Homo sapiens: one gene and its partners. Changing the gene in region 2 together with the main gene of any one other region gives a genetic interaction. Each region holds a gene or a part of one and is shown on either strand. Other genes may lie near its edges.

The links. A genetic interaction does not mean that the proteins touch.
Region 1: of ATG10 (region 2) and CHAF1B, changing one enhances a phenotype caused by changing the other (phenotypic enhancement), as found in Homo sapiens cells (one large-scale study listed by BioGRID).
Region 3: of ATG10 (region 2) and IARS2, changing one enhances a phenotype caused by changing the other (phenotypic enhancement), as found in Homo sapiens cells (one large-scale study listed by BioGRID).
Region 4: of ATG10 (region 2) and EMG1, changing one suppresses a phenotype caused by changing the other (phenotypic suppression), as found in Homo sapiens cells (one large-scale study listed by BioGRID).

What each region holds. Positions count from the first base shown.
Region 1 is NC_000021.9:36,405,892-36,409,391, reverse strand, and holds part of CHAF1B (chromatin assembly factor 1 subunit B), read right to left. Parts: intron 632-3,500; coding exon 562-631; intron 19-561; coding exon 1-18. UniProt on the Homo sapiens protein: Acts as a component of the histone chaperone complex chromatin assembly factor 1 (CAF-1), which assembles histone octamers onto DNA during replication and repair.
Region 2 is NC_000005.10:81,970,636-81,974,822, forward strand, and holds the start of ATG10 (ubiquitin-like-conjugating enzyme ATG10), read left to right. Parts: upstream 1-1,387; 5' UTR 1,388-1,671; exon of another isoform or gene 1,672-1,956; intron 1,957-1,973; exon of another isoform or gene 1,974-3,426; intron 3,427-4,187. UniProt on the Homo sapiens protein: E2-like enzyme involved in autophagy. Acts as an E2-like enzyme that catalyzes the conjugation of ATG12 to ATG5. ATG12 conjugation to ATG5 is required for autophagy. Likely serves as an ATG5-recognition molecule. Not involved in ATG12 conjugation to ATG3.
Region 3 is NC_000001.11:220,097,132-220,100,631, reverse strand, and holds part of IARS2 (isoleucine--tRNA ligase, mitochondrial precursor), read right to left. Parts: intron 143-3,500; coding exon 1-142.
Region 4 is NC_000012.12:6,977,175-6,980,436, reverse strand, and holds the end of EMG1 (ribosomal RNA small subunit methyltransferase NEP1), read right to left. Parts: coding exon of another isoform or gene 3,175-3,262; 3' UTR 3,071-3,174; coding exon of another isoform or gene 2,912-3,070; 3' UTR 2,840-2,911; coding exon of another isoform or gene 2,692-2,839; 3' UTR 2,097-2,691; coding exon of another isoform or gene 1,930-2,096; 3' UTR 1,835-1,929; coding exon of another isoform or gene 1,748-1,834; 3' UTR 967-1,747; coding exon of another isoform or gene 858-966; 3' UTR 501-857; downstream 1-500. Other genes in the region: LPCAT3 (lysophospholipid acyltransferase 5), read left to right, coding at 858-966, 1,748-1,834, 1,930-2,096, 2,692-2,839, 2,912-3,070, 3,175-3,262. UniProt on the Homo sapiens protein: S-adenosyl-L-methionine-dependent pseudouridine N(1)-methyltransferase that methylates pseudouridine at position 1248 (Psi1248) in 18S rRNA.

The sequences.
Region 1 (3,500 bases), on a different chromosome or scaffold from region 2:
GGAAGATGAGCGATGGGCCTAATGGATTAATTGCAGTGTTAGGAAAAGGCACTGTGACTAAGCAAAAGCAAAAATAAAAGGTAAACATTTTGGCAGGGCGCGGTGGCTCACACCTATAAACCCAGCACTTTGGGAGGAGGAGGCAGGCGGATCACCTGAGGTCAGGAGTTCAAGACCAGCCTGGCCAACATGACGAAACCCCATCTCTACTAAAAAAAAAAAAAAAAAAAAAATACAAGCCGGGTGCAATGACTCATGCCTGTATTCCCAGCACTTTGGGAGGCCGAGGCAAGCGGACCACTTGAGGTCAGCAGTTTGAAACCAACCTGGCCAACATGGTGCAACCCCATCTCTACTAAAAATACAAAAATTAACTAGGAGTGGTGGCGGGCACCTGTAATCCCACCTACTCAAGAGGCTGAGGCAGGAGAATCACTTGAACCCGGGAGGCAGAGGTTGCAGTGAGCAGAGATCGCACCATTGCACTCCAGCCTGGGCAACAAGAGCGAAACTCCGTCTAAAAAAAATGTAAACATTTCAAACATTTCCTTGACTGCATACCTTTTAAGATTCTTCCTGGAGAAAACATAAGTGGTATTCATTACATTTTCACCAGATTCCACACATCCAGCTGGGGAACAGGGAAGGGAGGGAGAGGAAAGAAAAGTCACTGTTTCAGCAAACTGTTCACCAACAGAAACTCAAGAGCCTTCAGGTCCGGTTTGCAAAATACTTCCCCCTGCAGTTATATTCTCTGGACAATGTTGTGACAGAGCACAAAAACATATATTCCGGCACTGTCTGTTCTCAGCCCTTACTCCAGTTCTACCTACCTGTCATCTCCACCTACCTGTGGGCAATCCCCGGGGACCTGGTTCTGATCTTGGGCGAGGAGAACATAGTGAGCCTTTGCCATAGGGCACCGTTGAGCCTCCAGGCAATTCCTCGATTGAAGCACCGTGACTAGATTCAGCTGCCCAGGCTCCTTTCTCCCTAGGACCCTCATCTCTATTTCCTGGATTCCAGCCTTGGATGCCATCCAAAGGCTGAGACTCGCCTTTCCCCAACTTCCCTATCCAGCCATGAGGCTGCCAGGAGACCTTGCCCTCTGCTGAAACCTCCAGCCTCCTTCAGAACCTGACTTCACTCTGGGGAACAGTCCCCATCTGAGAGCTCTTCTACACTCACCCCCTGCTGTACTTAAAACAGTTCAGCCCTGTCAGAGTGACCATCATACACTGCTGCTCTTGGAAACATCTCCCTGTTTTATGCTATTTCTTGATACATATACACACACGTAACTTTACATATGACTGTTTCATATCCACCAGGGAGGGCAGTAGACAGTATCAATAGTCTTTTTTATTATTATTATTAATACATTCTACATAGCTGCCCTCTTTTTTTTTTCTTTGAGATGGAGTCTTGCTCTGTCACCCAGGCTGGAGTGCGATGGCGTGATCTTGGCTCACTGCAACCTCCACCTCCCAGATTCAAGCAATTCCCCTGCCTCAGCCTCCTGAGTAGCCGGGATTACAGGCACCTGCCACGATGCCCGGCTAATTTTTGTATTTTTAGTAGAGAGGGGGTTTCACCATGTTGGCCAGGGTGGTCTCGAACTCCTGACCTCAAGTGATCTGCCCTCCTCCGCCTCCCAAAGTGCTGGGATTACAGGCGTGAGTCACTGCACCCAGGCCCCTCTTTTCATCCCACTCCATTCTTCCATCCCCAAGAAATCCATTTTAACATTCAACAAACCATTATGTCATCTGTATATTTCCTCCATGCTCACATAATCATTACAATCAGTTATAACTCAATCACATGTATACCTCTATGATATTTTTTATTGAGTCCATTTGTTTTACAAAACTGACACTTCTCCTTATTTTGCTTGTTTCAATCAACTACTCATGAAAGTTAACTTGCATAGCACTGATGCATTATTTTTTTGTAGCTGCATAATATTTACTGCAAGATTCATTCACCCAGCCTCTGTTAATGAGTATTTTTTTGGCTTTTGGTTTTTTACCACTATAAACAATGCTTGCAATAAGCATCCTTGAACATATACTTTTTTTTTTTTTTTTTAGACAGAGTCTCACTCTGTTGCCCAGGCTAGAGTGCAGTGGTGCGATCTTGGCTCACTGCAACCTCTGCCTCCTGGGTTGGAGCGATTCTCCTGCCTCAGGCTCTTGAGTAGCTGGGATTACAGGTGTGCATCACCATGCCCGGCTAATTTTTGTATTTTTAGTAGAGACAGGGTTTTGCCATGTTGGCCAGGCTGGTCTTGAACTCCAGACCTCAGGTGATCCACCCACCTTGGCCTCCCAGAGTGCTGGGATTACAGGCTTGAGCCACCATGCCCAGCCAGTTTCCAGTCTTAATTGGGTCTTCTCCATTCCTAGAATGTCCTCCTATATTTCCTTACAAGAGTTTTCTATTTTTACCTTTTGTGTTTAAGTACTGAATTCACCTGGAATTTATTTTTTACATCTAGGCAAGGGGTCCAATTTTACCTTCTTCCACATAGCTGGCTACCCCAGCACTACTCATTCAATAATAGAGTCCTCCCTTTGCAAGATCCATCTCTTGTACAACATGGTGATTATGGTTCATAACAATGTATTATATTCCTGAAAAATGCTAAGAGATATAAAGCGTTCAAACCACAGAAATCCTAATTATGTGAGACCATGCTATGCTAATTAGCTAGATTTAGTCATTCCACAACATATATATACTTCAAAACATCATGTCATACACAACTACATACAATTTCATCTGTCAATTAAAAAAAAAAGGAGGCCAGGTGCAGTGGCTCACGCCTGTAATCCCAGCACTTTGGGAGGCTGAGGCGGGTGGATCACCTGAGATCAGAAGTTTGAGACCACCCTGGCCAACATGGTAAAACCTCATCTCTACTAAAAATACAAAAATTAGCTGGGCATGGTGGCCGGCGCCTGTAATCCCAGCTACTTGGGAGGCTGAGGCAGAAGAATCACTTGAACTCAGGAGATGGAGGTTGCAGTGAGCCAAGATCACGCCAATGCTCTCAAGCCTGGGCGACAAGGGTGAAACCCTCTCAAAAAAAAGAGGAATAGGTCTTTGTCCAATCTCAACACTTCCCAACCTTCTTAATGACATACTCTTGTCCTATCTGCCTTCAGTGTCTAATTCTCTTGAGAATTATTTAAGTAACATACAATTAATTACAAATAAATAATAGATTTTTTTCCACTGGAACAGCACCTGAGGTCATATATTAAATCGCCTTATATCCTGAGATCTTTTTCTGGATTCTGTGTTCTGGTCCACTAATCTATTTGTTTGGTCCTATAGCAACACCATATTGATTGGCTAAAAGTAGTGTTATAGGATCTTCTGATATGTGGTGAGGCAAATGCCCTCCCAAGTATCACTGTTTTTTTTTTAATACTTCTTTGGCTATTCTTCAGCATTTATTCTACTAAACAAAGCTGAGATTTCATCCAATTAAA
Region 2 (4,187 bases):
TTTCTAAAATATGGAGTACAATGTAAAGCAATGCATTCTTTTTTTAAAAATTTATTGTTATTTTGAAAAATTTTTGTAGAGATGAGGTCTCACTGCCTTGCCCATAGCTGGTCTTGAACTCCTGGGCTAAAGCGATCCTCCTACCTCGGGCTCCCAAAGTGCTGGGATTACAGGCGTGAGCCACTGCGCCCAGCCGCATTCTTGTTTTCATCTGTGAAATACGTTTTTAAGGTAAATACTTAAAGTTGATGGAGACACCTGGTCTACTTAAGCTCTCATTCAGAACACACTGCCTTGTGCTTTTAAAAAAATTAAATGGATAATCTAAATTGGCAGCTACCAATTAATTTATATCCATAGTTGCTAAAAAATGTTAGTGTAAGTTCATTTTTATTAGTCGCATCATTTTGAGTTTTAAACTATTTCACATGCAGTAAAATTTATACCTCTTATGGGTTTTGTCAAACAGTGGTTTAGTCACCAACACAATCACGGTATAGAAGCTCTCAAGCTCCTTTTCAGTCACCCCCTTCCTCCAGCCCTTTGCCCTGGTCGCCACTGATCAGTATTCTCTCCTTTTAAAAACACTTATTATTTGGAAATAATTATAGACACAGGAAATTGCAAAAATACTACAGCACCTAGAGTCCCGTGTACCTATCACCTAGTTTCCTCCAATGGTGACATCTTACACAACTGTAGTACAAGATCAAAAAACTATGTCATGTAGTTTGAAGGCAGGTTTTCCTTTCACTTCTTCGCCTGCATTTTCTCCTTTCATTTCCAACAAATTTAACTCTGTTGTTAGAAGGAGCAGATGCTAGTTTTCTTTCAGATGTCTGCTATTTCAGTTCGATTACCCCTGTTACTCCTACATTTTTTCTAGTCTTTATCCCCATCGTTTCGCCCCAATTTAATTTTGCTGCTAGTTTTTTTTTTTTCTCCTCTGGGATATGTGCCACAGATGGTACTATTGTCAATATTCGAATTCCTAACTTCTCCCTCCATCCGTAAGTTTTCAAGGGGTAGCCGTGCTTGTGCTTAATTGTGGTGTTTACAGGACTTTTTGTAGCGTAAGCATGCTGGCATGGTTCCCCAACCTCTTAGGGGGATGCTAGTAACCCGCTCCCCCGTCAACGAGCCGCCTTTGTGCTCCGCGGAGGGCACCGCCTGCGTTGGGTTGGAGGTGGGGGTTGGCGGGGGAGAGCTGCCCGCCAGGCGAGGGGCGGGGCCTTGGCGGGGGTGGTCGCGGGCGGCGGGGAGGTCTCGCTTCCCTCCTCTCCACCCGCTCCCAGTCCCGGCCTGGGTCTCAGCCCCGCCCTGCCCAGAGCGCGCGGCCGATCACGTCACCGGCCTGCGCTAGGCGGCCCCCACGGCGCGGGAAGGCGCAGTGCGCACGCTCCGACTCGGCCGTGGCGGACCTGACTGAAGGAGGCCGCGGACCTGACTGAAGGAGGCCACGGCCACTTCTGGTTGGCCTCGGGGCGCGCTGGCTCGGCTCTTCCTCCGCCCTCGAGGCCCCCGCAGTCCCATCATTCAGTTCCGTAGGGTCACCGGCGCGGCAGTGGCCTCGCAGGGCGCTGGGTCCCTCTCCCCAGCTCTCCTCCCCCTGGCCCCGTCGCCCCGCCCTCGCCGGGCTGGGCTGCGGGGTCAGGGGCCGAGCGGAGAGGGGTGAGTATTCCCCACAGCCCTTGCCGGTTGTCTCCTCCCGGCTCTGCTTCCCACACGGTCCTTGCCCCACTCCTAGGACAGGGAGGAAGGGCACGCGCGGGTAGGCGGGAAACAGCCCAGTCCTGAACAAAAGGCCGGGGAAGCGGGTCCCCGCCGGTAACTGCAGGCCTGTGCTGGCCGCCGCGAGCGGGGAAGGGCGAGGACACTCCCTCCTCGGGGACCCGGTCCCCGTCGCGCACACGGTGTCACCAGCACACCTGGCCCAGTACCCAAAGCACCCTCGAAGTGGGTAGTAACTACTTTGTGTTTAAAATCCACATACTGATAGCAAATCTTTGGTTGAAACAGTATTAAATTACTGGGGCTTCCAGTGGCTGAGTCCAACTTAATTTGAAGTTTCAGATTAAGTATCAGGAGGAATAACTTGATATTTAGAGCCAACAGGTCTTTCTTTTTTTTTTAAACCTCCCAAAAAACCTATAAAATCAAGAATTGGCGGGGAGGACCGGAGAATGATAAAGGAATAGTTGACTGATTTATAGAAACTTTTAGTGGCGGTAAAAATTACAAAAGTATTGGAAATAAGGCAAAAGGACAGCATGTTTTTTTCAGAGTCAAAATGGAGCCTAACAGGCCCACCTGAAGATGATTTAGATGTCTAGGGGACTATATTTTGTTTGGCATGATGATATTGATTAGGGCCTAGGCTTTGTAGTTAACATCTTTTTCATTAATGGAGATGCAAATTATTTCTGAGTGGGAGAGAAAAAAATACAGTACTCCTAAAGGTTGTAGTTTTAGTGCCTTGTAGGATATTAGCCATTTTTCTTTTCTTTTTTTTGAGACAGAGTCTTGCTCTGTCGCCCAGGCTGGAGTGCAGTGGCACGATCTCGGCTCACTGCAACCTCTGCCTCTCGGGTTAAAGCAATTCTCCTGCCTCAGCCTCCCGAGTTGCTGGGACTACAGGTGCCCGCCACCACGCTCAGCTAATTTTTGTAAGTTTAGTAGAGACGGGGTTTCACCATATTGGCCAGGCTGGTCCGGAACTCCTGATTTTGTGATCCGCCTGCCTCGGCCTCCCAAAGTACTGGGATCACAGGCGTCAGCCACCGCGCCCGGCCAATATTAACCATTTTTCTGTCTAACCTATCAAACTTACCATCCTTTCTTCAGTGTTTATGCTCAGTTCCTGAAATGCTTTTGAGCACACTAAGCCATTCAGCTTGTTCCATTGTGAGTTTAATAAATCTTTGTCACAGGTTCATTTTGAGTCATATTTATAACTTTTGTTATTGGACAATGGTCTCTATTCTTTAGTGGCAAAAACAAGTTTATGCTTCTCAGGATGGAAGGACATAGGCCCTGTGTGGTACTCAAATACATCTTAGGACTCCAAGTAGAATCCTTTCTCATTGCTTCAGAAAGGTTAAACAGTGACCAGAGGAAATGTTACAGAACTTTGACCAAAAAATAAATCCTGAGTATTGAGAAATTAAAATTAAAGTCTTGCAAATTGCAGAGTTTAAAAATTGTTATTGATATTTTAAATTGAAGAAATTAGTGGAAATAGTAGTTCTAAATTGCATACATTTGAATGTGGAGTGTTAAAAGATTATTTCCCTTGTCTCCTGTTTTATTTAGGATAAGGTTAACTGAGATTTTGGTACATGGTGGGCCATTCAAGTTATGTATAATGTTTTGTGACAAACTACATGTCGACAGTAGTTCCTGATGCCTAATACATTTCTGAGAAAGGTAAAGCAGCCCTTTAGGAAAAACAAGGAGAGTAAAGCTTACAGAAGATTTCTTAAGATGGGCTTGATTTGATTATCTTTGAAACCTAGAGATGTGTTTGGGACCCAGGAGGTTGTGTTTGAATCATAAATATAATCAGGGAACCTTAAGAAAAAAAAAGCCATGGAGATCATTTGGTGATTATCTATTGAAAACAAATGTTTTCAGGGGACAAGCAGCCTGAGTATAATAAAGCAATTAGAAAGTTGGGGAATGGAGAATAGGAGAATAAGCTGTACCTGAAGGAATCTTAATTAGGGAATGGTTGCTGAAAACTGCAGAGACAAGACTTCTCTAATGTGCTTACCTGATCACATAGTTTTATAGGATCCAGGAAGAGGGCTTAGTAATAGGAGTGTAGCTTTGAAGCTAGGGTTATTTCATATCACTGTCATGTAACATCTTTCTGAGAAAACCTTTTTATCATCTCTTCTGAGCTCAAGAACCTACACTGGTTTCCTATTGCCAATTGTTTTAAATGGAATCTCCTTTGGGTTTTTTGGTTTCTTCTTTTGGTTTTTTAAGAAGTGGGGTCTCTAAGTTGCCCAGGCTGGAGTGCAGTGGCTATTTAGAGGCACAATTAGAAGGCACTACACAGCCGTGACTCCTGGCTCAAGCAGCCCTCCTGCCTCAGCCTCCTGAGTAGTGAGGACTAAAGGCGAGAGCTATGTCTCCAAGCTTCCTTTGAGTTTTAAGACTGTAAACTTCCTGCACCCTGTCCC
Region 3 (3,500 bases), on a different chromosome or scaffold from region 2:
TAGCTGAAAGATTCTGAGCTTCTCTACCAAGTTCTGATAATACTTTTATTTCAATGGGCAACCCATGACAATCCCAGCCGGGCACAAAATGTATTTTGGAGCCATTCATCATATGGAATCGATTGGCTATGTCTTTCAAAATCTGCAAAGATAAAATGATAATTATCATTCATACATAAAATATTTGGCCATGTATTTCAAAATCTGCAAAGATAAAATGATAATTAGCATTCATACATAAAATATTTGGCCTACAATTTATGTTCTTTTTTTTAAACTTAATACCATTTTTAAAACTGCAATTTGAAAGGAAACGTATAAATTAACTCATAAAAAAACTATTGACACAAATAGTCTAATATTATTTATATTGAGCTAAGAAATATCATCAAACCATTGCAGAACTTACAGTGTACTCAGAGAATGGAATATTGTGGTTAACTCTGTCATTGACAAACCCTTACTAAAACAGTAGACCTCTTCATTAGGTATAGTTCTAGAACCAATTTACCTTTTTAAATTCATTTTAGATACCAGAGGGCAGCAGAGCCTTTTAAAAAATATATTACTATAGTTGAATGGAGGAATCAAAGGCAAAGGATAGATTTGGCTCCAAGCTCAATTTCCTTCTTCCCAAGAGGAAACAGTGCTCTGACCACTAGCCCAGTAGTCCAGAAAACAATTTCCTCCTTTCCATGCCTATCAAAAGTAGAAAAGATATTATTATATTCTCCTCCCATCCCTTCCCCCCTTTAAAAACTCTAATTTCAAACTGTTTACTAATGAACAGGAAGGAGCCTTGTGATCTGAGTGGTTGTCACATTAAAAAAAATTCATCTAGCTATACATACTTAAGATTGGTTCACTTTACTCTGGGTATATTATTTAAATCAATCATCATATAAATAACCTCCTTTCTACTTAACTCTTTGGAAATTGTTTACTTATTTTTTTGTCTCTTCCCTGTAAAACATAAACTCCATGAAATCAGAGAGCCCATCTGTCCTCTTCACCTATGAATTCCAGCCTTTCGAATGGTTTCTGGCACTAGTCTATAAATATTTATCAAATACATGAATACATGGATGCATATATGCTCTAAACAATGGTATCTTATATAGTAGCCACTGGCCACATGTGATTTTTGGTGCTAGTCCGAATTCAGATGTAATGTAAATTATAAAATATATACCTGATTTCAAACATGTTTTACGAAAATGTGATATATCTCAAAAATGTTTTACATCGACTGTATGTTGAAATGATACTTTAGATATGTTGAGTTAAATGTAATATTAAAATTAATTTCACTTGTTTCTTTTCATTATTTTCTGGGGCCACTAGAAAAATTTTAACTTACCTATGTGGCACAAATTTATAGCTTGCATTATATTTATTTCTTTTTTTTTTTTTTTTTTTTGAGACGGAGTCTCGCTCTGTCGCCCAAGCTGGAGAACAGTGGTACAATCTCGGCTCACTGCAACCTCTGCCTCCCAGGTTCAAGTGATTCTCCTGCCTCAGCCTCCTAAGTAGCTGGATTACAGGCACATGCCACCATGCCCAGCTAATTTTTTTGTATTTTCAGTAGAGAGGGGGTTTTACCATGTTGGTCAGGCTGGTCTCGAACTCCTGACCTGATGATCTGCCCGCCTCAGCCTCCCAAAGTGCTGGGATTACAGGCCAGACCCACCACGCCCAGCCGCTTGCATTGTATTTCTACTGAATAGTGTTGCTTTCAGTCATATGAACAGGATGAAATCAATCACTGGAACTAATAATTAACAGTGTACCTAATAAGGATTCTTAAATGTAATAATAAAATATAATATATGAAGCCTCTAGTGAAAAGAATAGTAGCAATATCATAGGAATATTTTACTAACTCCTCAGTATCAAACACCACCCTCCTTCTCCCCAAAAAAAGTTCCTCCATACTTTTAAGAGTCATTTATCTCTGTTCCTTTCATTTTTCTAATATTCATGCATTGCTTTGTTTGAGGGATAAATATCTGAATGCCTACTGTATGTCAAGAATTTTTCTAGGAACCTAGAATATAGTAGTAAACAAAAACGACAAGGTCTTTTTTCTCATGGAGGAACACAGAATATATACCAACATATCACACACTATGGAGAAAAAAGCAAATTATAGGGTTAGAAAATGACATTTAGGGGCTGGGGGTGGTACCATTTTAGAGGGAAGTCAAGAGAGCCTGGTAAGATGACATTTGAACAGAATCTGAAAGAAATGAGGAGGTGATCCATGTGAATATTCTGGTGATGCATTCTAGGAAGAGGAGAAAGCAAGCAAGACTATAATTAGCATGTGTGAGGAAGAGCAAGAATTGGTCCTTCCCTAGTTCCAAAGTGCCCATGCTCTTTGCTAAGGGCTTCAAGAAGGTTTCTCTTCATGTGAGAGATAGTTTTGTAAGATGCCACTGTTTTGGCCGGGTGCAGTGGCTCACGCCTGTAATCCCAGCACTTTGGGAGGCCGAGGCGGGTGGATCATGAGGTCAGGAGATGGAGACCATCCTGGCTAACATGGTGAAACCACGTCTCTACTAAAAAATAATACTAATAATACAAAAAATTAGCTGGGCATGGTGGCAGGCACCTGTGGTCCCAGCTACTCGGGAGACTGAGGCAGGAGAATGGCGTGAACCCGGGAGACGGAGCTTGCAGTGAGCCGAGACTGCGCCACTGCACTCCAGCCTGGGTGACAGCGTGAGACTCTGTCTCAAAGAACAACAACAACAAAAGATGCCACTGTTTTTTATGGAATTATTCCTTTGTCCTCAATCCACATGGAGCTGGCTCCCTCTGCTGCAGCTCCAAGAGTGAACACGTGATCCACTGTAGCCATTAACATATTCTATCCCCAAGTCTGCAATGACTGATTCAGAAATAGATGTGCGACCCAAATCAGGCCAATGAGATTCAATTCCAGGACTTTTATAAGAATTATTGGGGGCCAGACGTGGTGGCTCACGCCTGTAATCCCAGCACTTTGGGAGGCAGAGGCGGGCAGATCACGAGGTCAGGAGATCGAGACCATCCTGGCTAACACAGTGAAACCCCCTCTCTACTAAAAATACAAAAAATTAGCCGGGCGTGGTGGCAGGCGCCTGTAGTCCCATCTACTTGGGAGGCTGAGGCAGGAGAATCGCTTGAACCCGGGAAGCGGAGATTGCAGTGAGCCAAGATTGCACCACTGCACTCCAGTCCGGGCGACAGTACAAGACTCTGTCTCAAAAAAAAAAAAAAAAGAAAAAAGAACTGTTGGGAAAGAGAAGGTGGAATTATGTAAGCCTGAAACTACTGGGAAATGTGCTGGGGGTCTGGGGTGGGGCAGTCACTAAAGTAGCAAAGAGTGAGAGACAGAAACCAATTCTTAATTTTATGTGAATTCCTGATCCAGCTATGCAGGTGGCTAAAACTATCTGGACTCTACAGTAAAAAAGCCAGTAAATTCTCTCTCTTTGCTTAATCCAGTTAATGTT
Region 4 (3,262 bases), on a different chromosome or scaffold from region 2:
TCAAGGCTGCAGTGAGCTTTGATCACACCACTGCACTCCATTCTGGGCAACATAGCAAAATCCTGTCTCAAAAATATTTATCAGTAGGAAATGCAGGAGGGCACAGTGGCTCATGCCTGTAATGCCAACGCTCTGGGAGGCCAAGGCAGGAGGATCACTGGAGGCCAGGAGTTCAAGACCAGCCTGGGCAACATAGTGAGACCCCATCTCTACAAAAAAAAATTATCCAGGCAAGGTGGTACATGCCTATAGTCCCAGCTACTCAGGTGGCCAAGGCAAGGGGATCGCTTGAGCCCAGGAGTTCAAGGCCACAGCGAGCAATGACTATGCCTCTGTACTCTAGCCGGAGTGGCAGAGCAAGGCCCTGACTCTAGAAAATAAAAATTAAAATGGTAAAAAAAAAAAAAAAAAAAAAGTTTAATTGCCAGAAGAATTCCTTCACTGAGAACTTGTCCATCCTGTGTTTCAGCATCAATTCAACCAAGAAATGAAGGAGCAGATTCAAAGTGGTTATTTTTATTATCTTACCTCCACTGGGTTTTCAGTCCCAATGGAGATTGTGAGACCTGGCAAGACCTTGAGATCAGTAGCATCCCTGAGGGGTAAACACAAGACTGGTCCACTGTCTGCTGCCCTGACTTTCCTACAACTCTTAAGAGGTTTGCAGTCCCCATTCCTCATAGCCAGCCATAGAAATCTTTCCCTGAAACAGGAAACACTTTGGGCAGCAGAGCTTCTCATCCCATTCCAGGTAGACAACCACACCCCTAAACACTCCTCTCCATAACTGAAGGTCAGAGGGTGAAGGGAATAGTCTCTGCTCTCTGTGACCAGGAACTTCACTCGTTCCTTTCCAGCATCATTCCTGCTCTCAAGCGCCTGAGTCTGGGCCTTTTCTACCTAGTGGGCTACACACTGCTCAGCCCCCACATCACAGAAGACTATCTCCTCACTGAAGACTATGACGTGAGTGTCTACTAAAGCAGCAGCAGCATGACTGCACCAGAGCTAGAAAATGGACAGGCAAGGATCCCTACAGATAGCAGAGAAGTAGGAAATATCATCTACAAGTGCATGTTGGTTTTGCTCTAGATCTGTGAGTTGTCAATGCCAGCCGTGCTGGGACATGTTCATCAGCCAGCACTGAACAACCTTCGCGGGCACAGGGCTGTGCCAGGTGCACATTTAGCACCCGTTGCCTTCTCTAGGAGCCGCTCCTAGCTTGCCTTATCACATCCACGTGACCCCTCAGAGCACAGCAGCTTCTGATTCTCCATCCTATTTTCTTCTCTTGACTGATACATTTGGGCACTTCTAGGGAATTCAGAAACCAAGGGAAGGGGGGAAGTGCTGGCTTTTGCTCCTGCCCAGCTGAAAGGCTTGAAAACAGTTCAGTAATTCTGGGCAGGTTTCTCTCCTTAAATTAAAATCCAATATGGGCCCCTCTGTACTTAACATTCCAAATGCTCATTCCAAACACTTTGCCAACGAAGGCAAACAGTAGAGAAGTTAAATACAGTGCTGCCCTTGAGGCTCTCCAAGGGAAAGGCGAATGAATATTCTCCAGGCCCTCTGCTTATTCCTCTCTGCCTATTGTGAAGGCAATCAGGCCAGACTATTGAGGGCATCTGGCAGCAGGACTCAGGCAGGTATGAAGTAGCCAGCCACAAGTGTGAAAAGGAAGAGTGCTGAGAGAAACTGCCTAGTCATGTGATATCCCTAATGCACTGTGCTTTCTTCCCTCAAGAACCACCCCTTCTGGTTCCGCTGCATGTACATGCTGATCTGGGGCAAGTTTGTGCTGTACAAATATGTCACCTGTTGGCTGGTCACAGTAAGTAGAAAAGTTGAAACAAGGTCCTATTTAGACAAGCCATGGGGGCCAGTATGGGGAGTGGCAAGAGCCCTAACTGAGCTATTCCCTCTCAGGAAGGAGTATGCATTTTGACGGGCCTGGGCTTCAATGGCTTTGAAGAAAAGGGCAAGGCAAAGTGGGATGCCTGTGCCAACATGAAGGTGTGGCTCTTTGAAACAAACCCCCGCTTCACTGGCACCATTGCCTCATTCAACATCAACACCAACGCCTGGGTGGCCCGGTGAGCTGCTGGTGGGGAGCCTGGACCCTGGTTCCTTCCTTCCACTGTCTTCCCAGATTGGAGGGCAGGGGTGTACCATGTCACCCCTATGCGTCTTTCCCATCTGGGCAGAACCCCCTGTCGCTCACACTGACTTTGACCCCCACCTATACCCCCCTCCCAAAAAAACCATTACTGTCATATTTGAAAAAAAGGCAAGATATAAAAGTGCGTTAAGACCTGGGTGTTACTCCAGCTCTGCCAATGGACTTATGTCCTCCACTGCCCTGTTTATCAACAGCTTTACTTGTTTGTCCCCACCACTAGAGTGTGGGCAGCTTGAGTAGAGTGTCTGGTTCACCACTGATCTCAGCATCAGCCTCAGTCACTGCTGCTGAACCAAGTGGCTCGTGCGCACACGGTCTCCAGCTCCGCCTTGGGTCTGCTTTCCATCTCTAAAAGTAATCAGTCAGCACTGCCTCCTGTACCCTCTGGGGGCTACACGTGGGAACCCACCAGCACTCCAATCCAATCCTCAGGGTGAGGACCCAGAGGCAGGTGGCGGGATGCAAGGACCAGTCAGTTTGAGGGTCGCCCCACCCACCCTTTTCTCCAGCTACATCTTCAAACGACTCAAGTTCCTTGGAAATAAAGAACTCTCTCAGGGTCTCTCGTTGCTATTCCTGGCCCTCTGGCACGGCCTGCACTCAGGATACCTGGTCTGCTTCCAGATGGAATTCCTCATTGTTATTGTGGAAAGACAGGTAGGCCTCCAGGGTGGGGGTGAAGGGGAATATAAGGGACAAGATGCTGATGAGCTCCTCCTCCCTCCCCAGGCTGCCAGGCTCATTCAAGAGAGCCCCACCCTGAGCAAGCTGGCCGCCATTACTGTCCTCCAGCCCTTCTACTATTTGGTGCAACAGACCATCCACTGGCTCTTCATGGGTTACTCCATGACTGCCTTCTGCCTCTTCACGTGGGACAAATGGCTTAAGGCAAGTGAAGGCCTGCTTGTGAGACTGGGAGGGACTCACTGCAACCTCAAAGGTTGCAAAGGACACTCCAGGCCTGTCTACCTTAGTGGCCTCTCTCTCCACAGGTGTATAAATCCATCTATTTCCTTGGCCACATCTTCTTCCTGAGCCTACTATTCATATTGCCTTATATTCACAAAGCAATGGTGCCAA